Regions from separate parts of the Homo sapiens genome. Here region 2 is reported to be linked to region 1. Evidence: microRNA targets listed by miRTarBase, many of them from high-throughput screens and not tested one by one. Region 1 holds a microRNA gene; the other region holds the end of a gene's coding sequence.

Region 1 (5,071 bases):
CACACACCAGAGTGGGAACTTATGGTGTATTTTCTGGGCTTGCCTATAGCCACCCATGGACCAATCAGTATGCACTTCCTCCTCTCTGAGGCTCATGAAAGCTTCAGGCTCAGCCAGAGCTGGGCAGACATTGGATGACCAGCTGCCGAGAGGAGCTACCCGCTCCAGGGCCTCCTCTCTGCTGAGAGCTGCAGAGATGGCAGAACAACTTGCCTGCAGAAAGGAGCTTCCCATTCCAGGGTCTTCCCTCTTCTGAGAGCTGGAAAGTCGACAGGATGACCTGCCTGCAGAGAGGAGCTTCCCATTCCAGGGTCTCCTCTCTGCTAGCAGCTGAACACTCATCAGGACACCCTGGCTGTGGAAAGGAGCTGCCCCCTGAGGGAGGCTCTGCAGGAGGCTGAGCTGTTCTATCGCTCAGTAAAGCTCCTCTTCGTCTTGCTCACTCCCCACTTGTCTGCATACCTCATTCTTCCTGGTTGCAGGATAAGAACTTGGGACCCATCAAATGGTGGGGCTGAAAGAGCTGTAACACAAACAAGGCTGAAACATGCCCCTTGCTTGCCATGATGCAGGTGAAGGGAAGGAAAGAAGAGCTGCGGCCCTCTGGGGAACCCAGACCTGGGAGCTCCCCAAGCTGGAGCTGTGACTCCCTTTTCGGGGCCCTGTGGTTCCTGGCATCTCGAAGCTTCTGGGTGCCACCGTGTTCCCCGGTGCCAGCTGTGGAAGCTGCTTGTGGTGTACTTGGTCTAGCCACAACCTCTCAGAGAGCTGGCGCCCATGCTGGCACCTGGAGCTGCTCACCCCGCTGCAGCAGCCGGCATGTCTGACTGTGTGCAGTGGCCAGACCCCATGTTCACTCACACACCCTTCACTGTTCCATGCCTGACTTGCCCTGGGCAGATGTGGAACCCAGGCTGGTAATGTGAGCTGAGTGCTGCCTGCCAGGAGGAGTGAGTGAAACAAGCCCAGTGGGCCTGAGCAAAACTTGGGCAAAGGTGCCACCAGCCACAGAGGTTTCCGGCCAGAAAATGACACCCCAAAGATCCTGTAACACCATCTCAAAAAAAAACAAAAAACAAAACCCAGCAACAAAAGCCTGTGAATTCTACCATCTAGAGACAATTGCTGCTAGTGTTTGAACAGATCATCTAGCCTTACTCACCTTAACTGATGGGATGCTCATTACCTGTCAGCACGGCACACTGCATCATTGTCAGCTTGGACCCTGAGAATGCTTTTCTTTAGATAGAGAGGCTCTGTCTCTCCCAGACTGGAGACCAATGTGTTCAGGCCTGGGCTGACCACATCTGTCTGCTTCTTCTCATGAGCATGTTTTTGTTTGTTTGTTTGTTTTCTGAAAATTTTGCCAGAGGCAGGAGGAGGAAAAGAGGAGGAGGAGGGAGGAGATAAGGGAAGGCTGTTGAAGTGGGCAGATGAAGGATGGTCTAGAGCCAGGGTTTTTGAGCTTTGGGGACTTCTTTTTCATTTGCAATCTTGTGTGGCATCTGATGTATGTCAAACAGATAAAAATGGGGATACTGGCTTGAAGGGTGGGGGCCCAGAGCTCCCCCTGACAGCCCCTCCCATGCTCCCTGGATTCAGAAAGTTCGTGGAGCTGGAATCTCATCTGCTCAGCCCATACCTAACTCACAGTGTGACCCTGGGCAAGTTATCTCATCTTTCTGAACCCCACTTTCTCCATCTACCAAGATGAGGGAGTGGGTGGGAGGTGGGAAGGCTGCCCCAAATGGCCTCTAACATCCCTTCCAGTCTCCTCCTCCTCCTCCTCCTTCTTCTTCTTTTGAGACAGAGTCTCATTTTTTTGCCCAGGTGGGAGTGTAGTGGCTGGATCTCAGCTCACTGCAACCTCTGCCTCCTGGGTTCAAGAGATTCTCCTGCCTCAGCCTTCCAAGTAGCTGGGATTACAGGCACGCATGCACCACCATGCCCAGCTAATTTTTGTATTTTTAGTAGAGACGGGGTTTTGCCATGTTGCCCAGGCTGGTCTCAAACTCCTGACCTCAGGTGATCTGTCCATCTCGGCCTCCCAAAGTGCTGGGATTACAGGCGTGAGCCACCGCGCCCAGCCCAGTATCCATCTTCTTCTTCTTCTTCTTCTTCTTTTTTTTTTTTTTTTTTTGAGACAGTCTCACTTTGTTGCCCAGGCTGGAGTGCAGTGGCTCGATCTCAGCTCACTGCAACCTCTGCCTCCTGGGTTCAAGAGATTCTCCTGCCTCAGCCTTCCAAGTAGCTGGGATTACAGGCGTGTGTGCACCACCACGCCCGGCTAATTTTTGTATTTTTAGTAGGGACGGGGTTTTGCCATGTTGCCCAGGCTGGTCTCAAACCCCTGACCTCAGGTGATCTGCCCATCTCGGCCTCCCAAAGTGCTAGGATTACAGGTGTGAGCCACCGCGCCCGGCCCAGTATCCATCTTCTTTGACTGCATTGCGTCAGCCCTGCTTGCCTGCCAGAGGAGTTAGAAACATGACATGCCCGAGGCAGAAACGCCAGCCCTGCGTGCCCTATTTTACTCTGAAGACACAAAGGACCAGAGACAAAAAAAGACTTGCCCGGGTCACACAGACAGGGGCAAGAGTTGGCAAGAGGAAAAATCAGATACTGTGAAAAGCTTCTCAAAGTCTAGTTTTCAAAATATTGAATACCCAGTTCCTATAGAAATACAGTGTGGGAATGTGTCAGTGTCCTCTTGTAGGTTGTTAATGGAGGAACCAGCTGGGTGACAAAGCTAGTTCAATGGATATGGAAAAAAATATATATGTATACCTATATATGGAGACAGAGAGAGTCAGTTAAAACAACAAGAATTCTGGAATATTCATAAAATTGCTAAATTAGATACAAAACTGGTTAGTGTTCTATAGGGCAATAAAATCATCATGTTGGGGCTATCTTCTCTATTGAAAAGAAATCATTTGCATCTCTACTAGACAAAAATAATTTGCAACTTAACAGTTTTCTACCAGTTAACAGCTATCTTTACTGAATCTGGGCTCTAATCAATAGTAAATAATAAGTCAAGCCAAGTGACATTCCCCTAGAGTGTCAGATGACCCTTAGCAGGGTTTGTTAGATACAGCTCTCATTTGACTTTGAAAGGACACCGGTTATCTATTTGCCTTATTTCCAAGTGTTGGATGATTTTACTTATCAGGCTGTTGCAAGAGTATAAACACTTCCCAAGAAATAAAAGACATCGATACTAATGCGCATATCATTAGTGTGAGAAATAAAAGGGTCAGCAATGGCCCTGTGCATGTCACAACAGGGACACCTTCAGGCGGAGAGGAAGGGCATATTCTTCCATTTCTCCAGAGCCCAGACTCCTAGACGGGAGGCAGGAGATGTGGGGAAGAGAGGAAATTCCTAGCCATGCTTGCACAGTTATGATCCATGAGGTTCAGTCTCAGAGTGGGATCAAAGGTCAAATAAATAACCAAAAAATAATTTTTAAATGACTTGAATTCTTTATGGCAGTCACATCCCATTCAAGGGTTGTGTTGCAAAATCGGCATACGAGGCAAACATTGTAAATGGTGAGTATCACCATTGTAAATGGTGGAAAAATTCTTCAAACAGCGCCACGTGAAAGACTGTATTACCGTTTCACAATAGTCTTTTGCTGTCAGTTTTGGCTCCAATAGTAGAACAGATTTCTTTTTCTTCAGTTGAGTACCAGTTGGTTAAGGTTAACCAATTCCCCCACCACTCACACACAAAGGAATTGAATCTTTGGAGACTGGAGCCACCCTTGGAGGTGAGGTGTTTAGATCATGAGGGGTTCACAGGAGCGGAGGCAGACTTGGGGACAGCAGAACTCTCCCAGCCACGGTCCCTCCAGAAATAGGCTCTTAGAAGACAGTATCCCCTGGCTGGGAGCAGTGGCTCACGCCTGTAATCCCAGCACTTTGGGAGGTCGAGGAGGGTGGATCAACTGAGGCCGGGAGTTTGAGTCCAGCCTGACAAACATGGATAAACTCTGTCTCTACTAAAAGTATAAAATTAGTTGGCCTAGTGGCACATGCCTGTAATCCCTGCTACTCGGGAGGCTGAGGCAGGAGAATTGCTTGAACCCAGGAGGTGGAGGTTGCAGTGAACCAAGATCAGGCCATTGCACTTCAGCTTGGGCGACAAGAGTGAAACTCCGTCTCAAAAAAAAAAAAAACCAATATCCCCTGCCTTACTTAAATTGTGATTCTCTCTCTGAGTCCTATTAGGCGAAGTGGAGATAGGCAAGTGTGTATATAATGCGACTCTAAGGTGCTTGTATATTTCTTTTAAAAAAAATGAGGCATAATTTGCACAGAGTAAAATGTGCACATCTCAAGCACACTGCTCAGTAGCTTACACCTGCACGCACAGGCCCTCTACCACCACTCAGATCAGAGTGCAGAGTATCCATCTCCCCAGCGAGGCGGCCGTGACCCTCCAAGTCAACAGTGCTCCCCTCCACCCGCAAAGTAACCGGTGTTCTGCTCTCCCTCACCATTGGTGCCTTCTGCCTGTTCTTGAACTTCATGTCAATGGAATCATGCGGCCTGTGCTCTTTTGTGTCTGGCTTCTTTTGAAGAGCATGCCGGTGAGATGCATCTGTGTTACGTGTGTCAGTTTGCGTGGTATTGCTGAGTGCTATTCCATCGTATGCATATGCAGTATCACACTTTGTTTGTCCCTTCTGTTGGTACAGAGTTTGGGCTATGATGAATAAAGCTGCTAAGAACATTCTGGTGCAAGTCCTCTGCCCCACCCAGCCCTGTGAACAGATACACTCAATTCTCTGCTGTACATTTGAACACCAGGAAGGAGGCATAGAGTTGACACCAGTGCTCTTTGCTCTTTTCCATCCACTCCTCCAGACCTCTGTCTTCAACTTCCTGTCTCCAGCAAAAAAAAAAATCTCCCGGCCCCTCTGCCCAGAGCCACTGTTCCTCCTTCTCCCTGACTCTCCTGCTCTCTGTTCTTTATTATGGAGATTGTCTTAGTCTCGCCTTTCTTGCAAAACCCTCCTTCTGGGCCTTTTGGGGTCTATCCTTCCATTCTTTGTCCCCAC
Region 2 (5,070 bases), not on the chromosome of region 1:
GGTTGGGAGGGTCAGGACTTTGCTAGGCGAAACAGTCTGCAGAGGACGCTTTGCTGATTGCTTTTAGTGTGTTTTGTGCCCGGATCTTTAGGGGTCGGCTACGGAGCGGACCGGAGGCGCGGCCGCCAGATCTACTCGCGGTACCAGACCCTGGAACTGGAGAAGGAATTTCACTTCAATCGCTACCTAACGCGGCGCCGGCGCATCGAGATCGCCAACGCGCTTTGCCTGACCGAGCGACAGATCAAAATCTGGTTCCAGAACCGCCGGATGAAGTGGAAAAAAGAATCTAATCTCACATCCACTCTCTCGGGGGGCGGCGGAGGGGCCACCGCCGACAGCCTGGGCGGAAAAGAGGAAAAGCGGGAAGAGACAGAAGAGGAGAAGCAGAAAGAGTGACCAGGACTGTCCCTGCCACCCCTCTCTCCCTTTCTCCCTCGCTCCCCACCAACTCTCCCCTAATCACACACTCTGTATTTATCACTGGCACAATTGATGTGTTTTGATTCCCTAAAACAAAATTAGGGAGTCAAACGTGGACCTGAAAGTCAGCTCTGGACCCCCTCCCTCACCGCACAACTCTCTTTCACCACGCGCCTCCTCCTCCTCGCTCCCTTGCTAGCTCGTTCTCGGCTTGTCTACAGGCCCTTTTCCCCGTCCAGGCCTTGGGGGCTCGGACCCTGAACTCAGACTCTACAGATTGCCCTCCAAGTGAGGACTTGGCTCCCCCACTCCTTCGACGCCCCCACCCCCGCCCCCCGTGCAGAGAGCCGGCTCCTGGGCCTGCTGGGGCCTCTGCTCCAGGGCCTCAGGGCCCGGCCTGGCAGCCGGGGAGGGCCGGAGGCCCAAGGAGGGCGCGCCTTGGCCCCACACCAACCCCCAGGGCCTCCCCGCAGTCCCTGCCTAGCCCCTCTGCCCCAGCAAATGCCCAGCCCAGGCAAATTGTATTTAAAGAATCCTGGGGGTCATTATGGCATTTTACAAACTGTGACCGTTTCTGTGTGAAGATTTTTAGCTGTATTTGTGGTCTCTGTATTTATATTTATGTTTAGCACCGTCAGTGTTCCTATCCAATTTCAAAAAAGGAAAAAAAAGAGGGAAAATTACAAAAAGAGAGAAAAAAAGTGAATGACGTTTGTTTAGCCAGTAGGAGAAAATAAATAAATAAATAAATCCCTTCGTGTTACCCTCCTGTATAAATCCAACCTCTGGGTCCGTTCTCGAATATTTAATAAAACTGATATTATTTTTAAAACTTTATACCGGGAATTCTGTTAATTCGCTCGCCCGCCGGCCTCAGGGTGAGAGCTGGAGCAGGCTCCAAGCGCTCCCGCGCCTGCCGGCCCCCTGCAAGCCCCCAGCCCTCTGCACTCGCCTTCCCCGGAGCCCAGGCGCCCGGCCCCGGCCTTCTGTTCGTTCTCGCGATCGCACTGAGGGGCTGGGAGGCCTCTCTGGGCTCCCTGCGCGGAGCAACACACACACCCTGCGGGAAAAAGCCGCGTAGGATTTTGTTGCGGGGGGAGCTGGGATCAGTCGGTTTGGGCACCAACCCCACGCAGGCCTTTCTTCCTGCCTGTGGCAGCCGGTGTCCTCGGCGTCCGAACCCTGAGGCGCCCCGAAAGACCAGTAAAGAAGCACTATCCAGGCACCAGGGTCTCCTCCACCCACTCCCGGGAGTTGGAGGCGGGGGGCGCCGTGAGAGCAAGCCCCAGGCCCGCGCCAAGCTGGCTGTTGCGAAACGTAGCGGAGGCGGAGAGCGGAGGGAAAGAGAAGACCGCGGGACTGGAGCCCTGTCGGCAGGGATTGAGCGATTCAAGGACATCTCGAGAGAGAAAGCCTGGAAACTGAGCTCTCGCCTGCTCTGGTACTCCTGACGTGGCCGGGACAAAATTCCTTCTTCATTACAGCTCCAGCCGGGCTGGTTCCTTACTTTTCTCTCCTCAAACGGGTGAAGAGGCGGGTGAGGAGCGCAGCCGGACCCTAACCATTTATCAACCCTGGCCTTCTCTCTCCAAGCCTGGCCAGAGAAACCTGAGTGGGCCTACAGGGAGAGGTGTTGAGGAGGGTCTCCGGAGGGAAAAAATCCGCCAGAGTTTTCCGGGCCCTTCAGATTCCCTCCAGCGCCCCCACCCTCGCCTCCAGTGCCTCCACCAGTGAGGAGGGGGCCTTCTCCTGGCGGGGCGGAGATTTCCTGGGAAGAAGCAGGCAGGGAAGTATGAGACTTGGGGCTACGGGGGAAGAGGATGGGGCCGAATGGCTGCAGATACCCTGCGAAGGCTACCCAGGCGCCTGCCCTGCCCACCCCCCAGGTCCGCCCCATTCCTCTTGGTAGCTCAGAAATTGCTCTCTTGTGAACCTTATGGATTCAGGTCCCTGGAAAGCCTAGCCCAGAGACCTTTTCCCCAAAGGGCACATAACGGGCCTTTTCCTCTGCCATGCTCACGTAATATTTGTGGAGGCTTCAATCTTGCTTCTCCATGTCCTCAATTAACATCTATTTTCTGTCTAAAACCTCTGGCATAGGTACCACATAAGGATCGCACACAGGGAAACAGAGCAGTCCTCTAGACCATTGTCTGGCTCTGTCCGTGTCCACACACACACTTGAAAATTGCCTTGTTGCCACTCTGGGGACCCTAGCATGGTGAGGTCTAGCCAACTCCACCTGGCTCCTCACCTCCAGATCCATCCCAAACAGCCTGCAACACCCTCAGCTTCATGACCCCCCTATCTTGTTCTGACCACTCAGGATCCCTCCTCCTGGGCGTCCTGTCTACCTCTTCAGAAGCTAATTCTACTTTCTCTTGCTGATAGGCACCTCTTCAGCAGTAGTGGAGCCTTAGGGCCTGAGAGGCAAGGGACTTCTACCTTTGGTTTAGGGAACCTAAGTTAAACCCCATTGGTTCTCCAGCCTGGGCATAGGCCACCTTACCTAACTTAATCCCCTTTCCTCAGCCATTTTTGAAGATTGGAAGACCCTGGAGGTTGGGAGAACGGGACTTTCATTACAAAAAGCACTCTGTGCGTTATAAGTGGGGCCTCGTCTTTTCCCAATTTTAAATAGAATTTAAAAGGCTAGCTCAGGGGTTGCCCCAACAACCAGCTTCTCCTTCACAGTGTAGGAAATCCAGCCACCGGAAAGCAAGCTGGCGCTCCAGGATGCAATTCCCCCACATAGGCACCAGGTGTCGCTGTGGGCTTGTTGTCCCGGCTACCCCCAATTCCAAGAACCTTTTTTTTTTTTTCCCTCCCCCTTCCCTCTTTCTCTCTCTCACTCCCTCTCCCCCTTGGTTGGGCTTTGCCAACATATCGAGATGCTTTTCGCCGGCTTCCATCACTAACCTCCCGGAGGTCATCAAGCCAAATTTATGAGTGGCCGCTCGAGTCACGTGACTCTATTTAAGGCTCCCTTATTTGGGAAGAGCGCATAGGATAAAGAAAGAGATATCTCCACCTATAAATTGTCCACTTTGGAGAACAAAAAACCCCTCAACTTCAAAGAGTCACAAATCACCCTTAATCAAAAAGGGTGCAGAAATTTTTTTGGGCCCTCCCCGCCATGAGCTCCTACGTAGCCAATTCATTCTATAAGCAGAGCCCCAATATCCCTGCCTATAACATGCAAACTTGTGGGAACTATGGATCGGCCTCAGAGGTGCAGGCATCCAGGTACTGCTACGGCGGATTGGACTTAAGCATCACTTTCCCACCGCCTGCGCCTTCCAACTCTCTCCACGGGGTAGACATGGCTGCCAACCCCCGGGCTCACCCCGACCGCCCCGCCTGCAGCGCCGCGGCCGCTCCGGGACACGCTCCGGGCAGAGACGAAGCGGCTCCTCTGAACCCCGGGATGTACAGTCAGAAGGCGGCTCGCCCGGCGCTGGAGGAGCGAGCTAAGAGCAGTGGGGAGATCAAAGAGGAGCAGGCGCAGACAGGGCAGCCCGCCGGACTGAGCCAGCCACCGGCCCCGCCACAGATTTACCCGTGGATGACCAAACTGCACATGAGCCACGGTAAACTTTAGGACTTCATTTTGCGCTCTCGGGTCCGCCTGGGTTTTATAGGCCATGCGGGGCAAATAAAGAAAAAAAACCTGCGGCCATAAATTTTACGATCCAGGCATCAATGGCTCGTAAAACTGTCCACTAAAAGGCTTAGAGGCTGTGTGCGCCCAAATTTACGACGACATAATTGGATCATAGGAACAAAACGTGTATAAAAGGCAATATTCAATTTTTGGGGGAGAGGGAGGGAGTTAAAAAAATAGAGGGATCTGAAGGGTGAGGAGCGCGGGGCTCCAGAGCGGGGATCCCCCCGCGGCTCCCTCCCTCCCTCCCCTGCGGAGCCGGCTCCGCCGGCGCTTGCGGCTCCGGAGGATTCCAGCGACTCGGGAGGGGCGGGAGGGGGGTCCCCGGTGCTCGGATCTCGAGGGTGCTTATTGTTCGGTCCGAGCCTGGGTCTCCCTCTTCCCCCCAACCCCCCCTCAGCCCCTCCGGCTGCAGAGTGAAGGCTGCGGTGGAAAGTTTCCTGCCTGGGCGGAGGCGCCTCTCCCGGGGCTGGGCTGGGCTGGCCCGCCTGCGGCCCGCGTGGCCTGTCTTGCGGCTCTCGCCTCCTCTCCCTCCGGCCGCGGGTGGGGGCCTGGGCTGGGGTGGGGACGGGGGAACGCTGCAAGCTATTCACCCCTTCCTGGCTTGGGGTGGGGTTTATGTTCCAGAGACGGACGGCAAGCGGTCCCGAACCAGTTACACGCGCTACCAGACTCTGGAACTCGAGAAAGAATTCCACTTTAACCGCTACCTCACTCGCCGCAGGCGCATAGAGATCGCCAACAACTTGTGTCTCAATGAGAGACAGATCAAGATCTGGTTCCAGAACCGCAGGATGAAGTGGAAGAAAGATTCCAAAATGAAAAGCAAAGAGGCTCTTTAGAGGCAGCGGGGGAGGCCCGCAGAGCGCGCCCCTAGCCGGTTCCTGTCCCTGCGCCTTTCCTTTTCGCCTTTCCTCTCTATATTTCGGGTCGGGGGCAGGTGCTGGAGCACTGGGCTCCCGGGCCCCACAGACAAAAGCGCT

The links. Region 1 holds the annotated microRNA hsa-miR-6127 (UGAGGGAGUGGGUGGGAGG, at 1,712-1,730, shown strand). A microRNA usually pairs through its seed, bases 2 to 8, with sites in the 3' UTR of a target mRNA and lowers its output. Matches are read on the target gene's strand: a 7mer-m8 pairs with bases 2 to 8, a 7mer-A1 pairs with bases 2 to 7 and ends in A, and an 8mer does both.
Region 2: miRTarBase lists HOXC6 as a target of hsa-miR-6127. Seed matches in the 3' UTR shown: 7mer-m8 at 433-439 and 8mer at 564-571.

What each region holds. Positions count from the first base shown.
Region 1 is chr1:22,629,987-22,635,057 of GRCh38, reverse strand. MIR6127 (microRNA 6127) reads left to right here and starts at 1,692; the gene lies at 1,692-1,800.
Region 2 is chr12:54,029,564-54,034,633 of GRCh38, forward strand. HOXC6 (homeobox C6) reads left to right here. Exons shown (of 2, transcript NM_004503.4): 2 at 92-1,260. The coding sequence ends at 399. HOXC5 (homeobox C5) reads left to right here and starts at 3,487. Exons shown (of 2, transcript NM_018953.4): 1 at 3,487-4,013; 2 at 4,715-5,070. The coding sequence starts at 3,560. The coding sequence ends at 4,929. MIR615 (microRNA 615) reads left to right here and starts at 4,387; the gene lies at 4,387-4,482. It also overlaps a transcript of HOXC4 not described here. RefSeq lists enhancers at 3,002-3,296, 3,291-4,442 and a silencer at 4,526-4,585.